2 separate regions of the Homo sapiens genome follow, and region 1 is linked to region 2. The links come from fine-mapping of genetic effects on gene expression. A gene starts in region 2. The other region holds a variant in brackets. All regions are shown on one strand. Distances are from middle to middle. Region 1 has its middle 95 kb from the start of RYBP. Region 2 holds the start of RYBP (RING1 and YY1 binding protein).

Evidence for each region. PIP is the estimated chance that this variant, and not a neighbour inherited with it, causes the effect. A credible set is the group of variants that fine-mapping cannot tell apart.
Region 1: its variant is the best candidate, but not a certain one, in a credible set for the expression of RYBP in whole blood (INTERVAL, PIP 0.62).

What each region holds. Positions count from the first base shown.
Region 1 is chr3:72,348,726-72,354,099 of GRCh38, forward strand. No RefSeq gene overlaps it. Among named protein-coding and RNA genes, the nearest start is that of RYBP, 95 kb to the right of the region's middle. The variant G/A (reference allele first, on the strand shown) is at 2,505.
Region 2 is chr3:72,444,516-72,449,889 of GRCh38, forward strand. It overlaps RYBP (RING1 and YY1 binding protein), which reads right to left and starts at 2,108. Exons shown (of 4, transcript NM_012234.7): 1 at 1,981-2,108. The coding sequence starts at 2,108. RefSeq lists silencers at 2,425-2,484, 2,545-2,954.

The DNA of each region.
Region 1 (5,374 bases), 96 kb before region 2:
AATAGCCCTAGTATAAGTCACTGGCCCAGTTTGGGTGAGATGACCAGCCCAGAGACAGTCATATGGACAAGGATTTGCAGCAGTATTTCCATTGGCCAGGAATGGATCAGGTGTCCACCCCTGACGTTGGCAGGCCAGGGCAGTAACCTCTCACCCTCAAATCACAGGGACCGAGAATGAGGAGAGGTGATTCTCTAAGAGGAGATTGGGAATTACCAGCTGAATGGAGGCTTCACAAGCAGAACTGGTGGACATCCCCTACAGCCTCTCTGTGTTTCTCCCTTTAGTCTTTAGTAAAGTTTTTTTCTTTTTTTCTTTTTTTTGTTTTGTTTTGTTTTGGGAAAATTTCCAACCTCATTCTCATGGAAAGAAGAGGCAAAAGTTTTTAAGGCAAGGTGGTCTTGCAGTAAGCTGCCATTGTGTGGAGATGGGACTGCAGAGGAAGTGGGTTGTGCATCTGCTTTGTACAGTGATGGAATGCTTGGCTTCTTTTGGCCAACAGAATGTAAGTGAATGTGAGGTGAGCAGAGGTTTTAAATGTGCTTGCTGGTTTGGCTGGGTCTTTTGTACTTCTGCCATTCCCCATAAGACATCCTCTGTGAAACCTCTGATTCCAGAATGAAGCACATGGAACATTCCTGATCCTAACCCAAAGCCTAGAGCAGATCTACCCCCAGATGACCCACAGACCCAAGAGCAAGACAAAGAAAGAGTGTTGGTTGTGAGCCCCTGAGATTTTGTGGGGGTGCTTGTCATGCAGCATATCACAGTGCAAAATCTGACTAACACACTTTGAAAGTCTAGGGGTTCTTCCATTGAGGGAGGCCACTACTCTTGGAAGTAAACAGTCTGTCAGGAAGTGGGTCCTCTGAGCCGTGGCCACTCTATATTCTTCCCAAGATGCCCTAGGAACACAGAAGGGCTCAACCACCATATTTCAACCCCCACCCAGCAGAGTCTCCAGAAGGAATTTCAGCATCTTTTCTGGAGCAATCTGCCCTACCCTGCATCCTGAGTCTCCCGGGATCTTTACCAGCTGCGTGGCCATAAGCAAGTTAATTGCCCTCTTTCAGCCTTAGTTTCTTCACCTGTAAAAGGGAATGATACTAATCCTTAGCTTTTGGAGGAACTAATGGACAGAATGCATGTAAAACACACATTTATAGCACCTGGCACATGATAAATAGTTCAAAAAATGTTAGGTTTATAATTATTTGTTTTTGAAATTGCTGGAAGAGCAAAAATGCATTTGACTGTTCAGTCTGCTCCTCTAAGCCTTGGGAACACCATGCAATTGGTGTGTCTGTTCTCCGGAGCAGACAAACCCCCGGGTGCCTAAACTCAGAAGAGGCATTTGGGCCACTGAAGAAGCAAATTTTGATTGGTTTTGTTTTGGTTTGTTGGGGTTTTTTTCTCCCTCAATTTTTGGCTTCTGTTTTAGTTACTTGAAATCACACAGCCGATTTATTTATTTTGATTGCTCTTCACACAAGTAAAAATAAAACAAAGAAGTGCGAACAGTGACAGCCTTTGCTACAACTTTACTCAGGACAAAGAACCGTGGCTAGAAGAAAAGTCACAATTCCATTAAGTGGGAAAACACTGAACTCTCACGCTTCGTTTCCATCGGAAATTTACTATGAGGTGGGATTTTCATGCCAATTGACAAACCAGCGCCCAGTTCAGACTCCTTCAGGCTCTGCCTTCCTCAGCCTCCTGTCCCCTACTGTGCAGTGTGGAACTTGGAACGAAAATAGTGATCATTCTTAAATTATTATAATAGAAGAACAGCCACGTATTGGGCGCTGACCAGGTACCAAGCACCATGCTCAGTGCTTGATGTGCTAAGTGCTTCATTTAGTTCTCACCACATTGCTGGGAGGCTGCTATGCGTTCTCTCTCAGCCGAGGAAACTGCCACTCAGAGAATGTAAATAATGTGTCCACAGCTAGATGTGGGGAAGATCTGGGACTTGAACCCAGCTCTACTTCCAAAGCTTGTGCCCGAAACCCTATTTTGGGCCACAGTGCATGGTCCATTGTCCCGAGGACTCTGAGGTCCTGAGTCCTCAGAGGAGGCTGGGTAAGTGACAATCATGTGCGGAACCCCAGAAGGCAGCTCAGCTCCAGGGCCTGCCTTCTTCTATTTATGCATGATCTGTCCCAGCCTGTGAATTGGCCCCGTGGCTCCCCGCATGTCCTGGAAGAGGTGGATCACAAAGCTGCAGCTCCTTCAGGCCCCTCTCTGGCCACATCCAGGAAAGAAAGGAAGAACCTTCTGCCCTCACAGCAAACTGCCCAGTTCCAGCCTTGGAGGCAGGCAGCCTTCTCCACTGCCAAGGGCACTGAGTTAGGAGTGGCACAGCCACGTCTGACCTCTTCCCGGCCGTGTGGCCTAATCTCCCTGAGCCCCAGTTTCCCCATGTATAAAGCAGTGGCATAAACTTGTCTCAGTGGTTTCCAGACATTGTCAGTCAAGGAAAGCACTGATGAAAGCGCTCGCAG[G/A]TCTCTGTGTGTGCAAAACCAATGAAAGAGCAGCTGTTCCAGACAAAAGAGGCCTGGGTCTTGGCGCCCCTCAGTCTCCGTAGGGAGCAGTCACGATACTCCTGACCTAGCCCATCCCGGAGGCCCCACCCAGCTCTGACTTTCTGTGAATCTTGGATCTTGACACACGTCCCACCAGAAAGGTTTTTCTTCCCAAATGTGCTCATCAAAACTCTTGGGGTGCAAGAGACAAAAACTCAATTCGAACCAAGTTAAGCAAAAAGAGAAAGGTATGGGCAAGGTCCCTAAAATTCCATCTTGTCTTTTCTCAAAATCGAGCTGATCTTTGTAACGAGGAAAGCAGACGCTGTCACTCCCTGGCTTAAGGCCTTTCTTACATGGCTTTCCTTCTTAAATGGACCTGGGGAAAGGTGTGAATGCCTTACTTTAGCCTGTAAGTACGCGCACATTCTGGTCCCTGATTCTCACACCAACCCCATTTTGAGCCGTTCCTGCCTCTGGGCCTTTGCACATGCTATGCCCCCTACCTGAGATGACTGTCCCCTATCTCTTCCATATCCAGCTCTTTCTCACCATTCACGCTTCCGCTCAAATGGCAGCCCTTCACAGTAGCCTTTCTTGTCCACCCCAACTTAATTAGCCCACCCTTTTTACCCCCAATCACTCCTTAGCCCCTCACCTGGCGTTATTTTCTTATCATACTCTGTAATAGTCTTATCTATTTGCTTACTTATTTACTGTCTGTCTCCTCGTTAGAATGTCCATCGCATAAGGCAGTTTGCATTGCTTCCTGCAGTATTCCTGACATCTAACACCACTCTTGCCCATGTCCAAGTGCCCCATAAATGATTGTCGAATGAAGGAGTAGATGATTGACAGTGACGCTCCATGTTTTATCAAGTTCAGACTCCTCAGATTCAACATGTACCTATAAACTGGATCCTCTTGCTTCTCTCAGTGAGAAGCCACACCGCCCAGCCACATCTGTAAGCCTGTCCATCCCTGGCACCTCCCTCCCATCTGCACGTCCTGCCAATCTACCCCTAATTTCTCAAAGCCATCCACCCCTCTCCATCTTCTCCACTCCCTTCGAGACCAAGCTCCCATCTCTCTCTTGGGGCACCTGCAGCAGCCTCCCTGAGATCTCCAGAATCCCTTCTTGCCCACTTCCAACCTGATTGCCCCAGTGCTACCCTGAGAGTGTCACCCTTTGCTGATAAGTTATCAGTTTGACCATCTGATACATTCCAAAGAAGCTCAGATGCCTTCCCACGGGCTGCAGGCTCCATATGGCCTGGCCTCCCGCTGCCCCTTGCAGCTCAGAGCACTTATCACAGTTGGTTCATACATTTACACTGTGAACACTGGATCGAGTCTCTCCCCTACCTCACTATACACTCCATCGGGGGAGTGACCTTGTCTGGCTTTGCTGCATTCCTGGCATTTGGTGGATGTTTGCTTGATAAATATGGGTAAATGAATAAATAAATAAATGCTGCTGAATACCTATATATGCCAGATATTAAGCTAACATGGAAATAAATTATTTCATTTTTTTCAACAATCTTATGAGGATGAATGATTGAACAAATGAATGAATGAACTATAAACTAACAAGGGAGGAGTCACCATCCAAAAGCACACAGGAGGCCAGACATGGTGGCTCACACCTGTAATCCCAGCATTTTGGGAGGCCAAGGCGGGCGGATCACTTGAGCCCAGGAGTTTGAGGCAGGTGGATCACTTGAGGCCAGACTGGCCAACATAGTGAAACCCCATGTCTACTAAAAATACAATAATTAGCCGGGCTTGGTGGTGCACGCCTGTAGTTCCAGCTACTTGGGAGGCTGAGGAAGGAGAATTGCTTGAACCCAGGACGCAGAGGTTGCAGTGAGCAGAAATTGCAGCCTGGCGACAGAGTGAGTGAGACTCCATCCCCCAAAAAAGATATACAGGAGCCAGGAGGGCATGTAAACAAGTGAGAGGAGAAGCGCCGGTGTAAGATACTCACAAATGGATGGTACCATGGCAAAACGAAGTGCCATGGCATCTGTTATGGACTGAATTACACCCCCCCAAAATTCACATGCTGAAGTCCTAACCCCTGGTATCTCAGAATGCAACCTTATTTGAAGATGGGGACTTTACAGGGATAATCAAGTTAACGTGAGGTCATTACAGTGGGCCCCGATCCAGTGTGACTAATGTCCTTATAAAAAAGGGAAATTCAAGCACAGACGTGTACAGAAGGAAGACAGTGTGAAGATACAGGGAGAAGATGGCCATCTACAAGCCAAGGAGAGAGGCACAGAATAGATCCATCCCCTACAGCCCTCAGAAGAAACCAAGTCTGCCCATGCCTTGATCTCAGACTTCCAGCCTCCAGAAGCACGAGACAATTTCAGTTGTTTACTCCACCCAGTTTGTGGTACTTTGTTACGGCAGCCCCAGGGAACAAATACAGCATCCAAAGGCATCCACGTTCAAAAGCGTTTTTCAACCCTGGCTAGGCCAAATAAGATTTGTCTGGAGGCCACGTTCTGCCCGAGAGGGCGCAGGTGGCAACCCCTGCAGCCTGGAGAGTTCTCAGAGCACACCCTGTCCACCAGGGAATTGGCACTGTGGGAGGCTGAGGTCAAACAGATCAAATGGGAATTCAATTATGGTTTGGAGACGAGTCCGTGAGGTCACAGATTAAATGAGGGCAGGGACTGCAGCCTGGGCCTCGCTGTGGTGTTCATGCTCCGGGCTCCAGAAGCTGCACTCCTGCCTGTCACAGAGCCGGACGAGGCCCAGCCTGCTTGTCACATAGAGAAGAAACCGAAATTTAAAAGATAGATAGGTCAGATCAGTTTATATGTGGCTGTGGA
Region 2 (5,374 bases):
TAAAACACCAAAATATTGACAATAACCAAAATGAAACCAACTGTGGCCAGCTAAGAGTGTCATGAATGCACACAGTTTTCAGTCCTCACACCTGTTAAATCTGTATTCAAATTCTATTAAATGACATCAGAAAATTACTCGAAGACCCTTAAAGTAGACGCCTTTCCCTGTTCCTGAATAGACTCTAAAATATTTTCACTGTAAATAATTCAGTAGTTTTAACTAAGTTTCAACAGTCATCTGCGGCTCTGAAAAAACTTTAAACATACATACATACCTTTTTTAAAAGTCAACACCTTCCATGTGCTTCCGAAAAATTGATGAGTAAGGTTTTTTAAAATACATGTTAAAAGCTGAAATGCACTTCATTATGAGATAATCATTCCCAGCGATAAATCAGACATAAACTTTTGAATTTGGTTTACGTTTCTCTTCACCAGTAATGTTCTCAAGTTCTTAGGAGTTTCCTAATCATTTACTTGAACACCATCTACGGTAACACTCAAAGCAAAACCACAATAAAGAGGTTTGGCCTCTGAGGGCTTCTACATGTAAAAAACATTACTCATAAATAATATACAATCACTACTGCTTTAAATAACAAATACATTTCTAAAAACTTTCATGCCATTTGATGGAATTCCCTATTTTAGACAGCAAAACAAAATCTATGAAACTACTGATGCGTGTTTTTTACTTTAGATATATTCCATGATAATACAAAACACCGACAAAAATTTCTTAAAACAACGTATGGAGTAATATTTTTAGTTTTTGATTATTTTTATTCAAAGGTATCATCATTTAAAGAGTGCAATTCACAGAAACAATAATTAGGCCAATTAATCTCAGAGTTAGATTATTTTAGGTTGCCCAATAATCCTATTTAATCCCAAGTATAAATAAACCAATGAAACCTTAACATGACATATTCATCTAATCAAAGAACAATATCCAGTTGGAACTGTGAAGTACTACTACACAGTCACACTGAAATGTCACCAATTCAAAAATAAGTACCTGATAAAATGAGACTTTTGGCAATCAACTGTAATGTTCTAAAGGATCCACCAAAAACTCATTCTTGTCTCACACACACACCCAATGCCTGTTCATTAAATGACACCAAGAACAGTTTAACTTCAAACTCTAACGCCAATGAAACAAATTCAGACATAAATTAAAAGATGACCAAAAGACTACATGAGTCTTGACATTTTATCCAAGTATTTATGAATGTTAAATCTAAAGTAGTTAACTCGTTTTAACATCACATGCAGTTTACGACCTTCATCAAAATGAAAAGGAATTCTTTCAACATTCTTTTCATCATCACAGAGCTTTAAACACAAACTTCCACAGTCACTGCTCATTTCACCATTTTACAAAATCGTCCCCCATCACCACCCCACATAAGCTAGTCAAAGAAAAAAAAAACTGACAGCTCAGTCTCCCACAAAATGCACTTACTTTATCAAATACCGACATTTATTTTCAAGTGCAAGAAAGTAACAGACATTTGCAGCTCAAGACAGGAAAAGCACAGCCAGCCTTACTACCCCCACTAAATTTCTCAGACAAGAGAAAAGTAACTCGGGACAGGCAAATTAAAACCATTCTACACATGGCAAAAATATAAAACATCTATGTCCTACAATCCATAGCGATAGTACTGCTTCCTCTCTTCCCCAGCCAATACCAATAAGCCAATAGACACAAGTGTCAAATAAATCCAGTGTCCGTTTGAAATAAAATGAAAACCTGGAAAAATTCCCTCCCATAAATCATTTAGCGAACACAAGGCTTTTCACCCAACACTTAATACACTCAACCCAAAAACACACACAACCCACCCGCAAATACAAAAAAAGCCGTAATCAACAAGTTGGAAAAAGGGCAGAAAGTAAGGCTCACTACCCTCTCACTTAAAAAAAAAAAAAAAAAGTCCTTTAACAAAAGGTAACACAGATCTTCAAGTACCTGGTGGAGGTGCCTTTCCTCACATCGCAGATGCTGCATTTAAAGGCTTCAGCACTGTTTCTGAAGGTGCAGACGCTACAATCCCAAAACCCTTCGTCTGCGGCAGGTTTCGCTTGTCTTTTTGGCCTTCCGAGGAGTGGAGAGTGGGGGAAAAGGGAGGGAAGAGGCAGGGAGCAGGAAAACGGGGGAGAGACAGCAAAACACAGACGCGGGTGAGCCGTCGTAATTTCGCAGGAATCCAGTGCTGGAAACTTCGCTCGGGAGACCACCCACCCACCCTTTCCGGGGACTGGAAGAGAGAGCGAGGAAGGGAACCGGGCGCCCCCACTGGCACCCTGCAAGCCCCGGGCCCGGGCCGGATAGCCTCGCACACCAGGCGGTGGCGGCGGCGCCCCGGGAAGGGCCGCGGCGGGCGCAGGAAGCGGGCGGACTTGTGGACTTGAGCGTGGGGCTGGGGGGGCCGGGAGGGGAGCCGCGGGCCGGATCTGGAGGGGGCGCGCAGGGGCAGCCCGAGGCCGGCGACGGGGAGTGGGCCGGCTCCTTCCCTCTCCACTCCCAAGCTCGCGCCCTCCCTCCCTCCCCACCTGGTTAAATCCATCACAGTCTCCGGACGAGACTAGTCCCCGCCAGCGCCGCCTCCGCCGAGTGACTGACGAGGGGCGGGGCCTGGCGCCGCGCGTCACGCGCCGTGCGGCCAATGGGAGGGCGGCGGCCGGCGCCGCGAGGGCGGAGGCGGGGCGCGGGGGAAGGCGGGGCGTGGCGGACGTGGGCCGGGCGGTCGGTGTGCGTGCCCGGGAGTGTGTGCGCGCTGGGGGCGCGCGTGCCTGTCGGTGGCCCCGCGGCCCGGCGCGGCGGAGCGTGCAAGCCCGGCGGGGCGCACGTGGCCGCGCCCGGGAGCTGGCAACTGGCTTCGGGCCCCGCACGGCGCCCCGTGAGGCTGTTGCCGGGACCCCGGCCCCGAAGCCGCCCCGGGGAAGTAGTTCCACGCAGTTTGCGCGCGCCGCGGGAGCTTGCAACAGCCTCACCGCTCGCAGCGCCTCGAGGCTTGCAGTGCCCAGGGGCCGACAAGGTCCACCTTTGGACCGCGTTCCCCCGCGCCCCTCTGTTCCTCTGCCATGCGGAGCTTTGTATTTGCCTCTTCTGAAGTCCCTGCGTCCGGCCGAGACGCTGGCCCGAAGCCCCACTCCCTGTCAGGCCCCTGTCGCGGGAGGGAACAGTAGAGAAAGGGCGTGGCATAACTAAATGCCCCCAGGCCAGACTCTGAGCTTCTGCTGGCGGACTCCTCCTGGGATCCTCCTCTCCCCTAGAGTCTAAATAGGGCGTTTCCTTAGGGAAGTTGCTATTCAAATTCTGGCGACCACATGCCCGCATTAAAACCTCGTGCCTCAGCTCCTTCATCTCCAAAATGGGGCTCATCCTCCCAGGGTTGTTTTGAATATTCGGAGAAATCAGGCATGGAAGGTTCGCTGATGGATGCCTGGTATTCACGAAGGACCAAAACAAGATATTGGGTATTAGGAGCTATTATAACTGGGCCTGAATTGTGCACCATTTCCCCCGCGTTCGATTTTTGAAGTCGAGGAACAGGGTAGTGCCCTTCACTTTCTGCCCTGCTCCAAAAACGCTTGCCAAATTGACTTGAACGTGACTCAGGACCCTCTGTCCTCAGGCAGGGAGATCTGGTAGGAGGACGACCCCAGATGATAAAAGACACAGACGCGGCTGTGCTGAAGCCCCAGGTTAGGGGAGGGACGGAGTCTTAGAATGCTGCTAGGAGTTGGGGCCCGGGGGTGGGGGGATTGGAGTTAAGACAGACCCTCAGCCAGGTTTATATGCAAATATAAAATAGGTTGTTATCAGGACTGCCCCATGGAAGGGAAGCATATCAGGGCTTGCCACCAGGGAAGCTCACTGAGACTGAGCACCCAGGGAGCAGAAATTCCTAGAGATCAGTCCAGGGATCAGAAGGGAGAGAATAAAAGAGAGAATGAATGTGTCAACAATAAGTTTGATCAGCACGCAGTGTCCTCTCCAGGCAGGCGCACCCAGGAGGGCCAGGAGAAGCAACACTGTTTAGCAAGGGTCAGCAACCTCTCAAGGCCTCAATGCCACAGCTGCCTCCTTAGGGGAGGGATGAAAGAAGGAAGAGGAAGAGAGAGGGATAGCGTTCTAGGGGTAAAAGGGCCGTAGAAAGCCAAAGGGTACGTACACAAGCCATGGCCCAGTGCAGCTGCGCCATGGAGCAGCCTTGGCCTCTGGTGTCTCCCTGGCATGCTCCCAGGACTCTGCCCCTGGCATGAAGGTCGTGACAGAAACGGGGCACTAAGAAATCCTCACTGGAAGAGTGGCCTCCGGGGAGGTAGCTGGGAGCCATAGTAGTGGAAAGGAGACTTTGTTATTATTCTATACATAGAATAAAATACACAAATTTTCACACTGCAGCTTAGTGCATACATCTACACCCCTCTTTCCACCATTAGAACAATAAAACATTTTATCCTCCCAATGAGTCATCCCTCACTTAGGTAACCACAATTCCGACTTCTGTCACCAAAGATTAGTTTTGCCTGTTCTTTAAGGTCATATGCAGGGGTCATATGGTCTGTACTCTTGTGTCTGGCTGGCACCTTTCGCTCAGCATATTTGTGATATCCATCCACGTTGTTGCCTACATCAATAGTTCATTTTTGTTTGCTTAAGTGTGTAGAATTCCATTGCAAATACACTGTAATTTATCCATAGGAGGTTGACTGTTTTAGTATGTCGTTTTGTATCTTTGTCTTGTGTTATCTTTTCAAAAAAGAAAAAGTTTTTAAAAATGTGTTTAAGAAGGGCCAGGCACGGTGGCTCACACCTGTAATCCCAGCAGTTTGGGAGGCCGAGTGGGTGGATCACCTGAGGTCAGGAGTTCGAGACCAGCCTGGCCAACATGGTGAAACCCTGTCTCTACTAAAAATAAAAAAAAAATAGCCGGGCGTGGTGATGGGCGCCTGTAATCCCAGCTACTCGGTAGGCTGAGGCAGGAGAATTGTTGGAACCAGGGAGACGGAGGTTGCAGTGAGCCAAGATTGCACCATTGCACTCCAGCCTGGGCGACAGAGCAGGACTCCGTCTAAAAAAAAAAAAACCAAAAAATCAAAAAAATGTGTTTAAGAAAAACAATTTCAGAGTAGAGAACTATCTCTAGGAACTTATCAGACCCAAGGATCACCATGTGGTTGTAACTTTAGAGGCTCTAATTTCATTCAGATGTTGGAGGCAAATATCTATTGAAAGTCTCCTTGTAGTTGTATGAGTCAAATGGGACTATTTCTGGTACAGTGTGCTCCAGAGTGCTGTGGCTCTAGGCAGAGCGTACTGTGATTCTGGAGTGGGGTTTAGAGGCTGAGCTGGG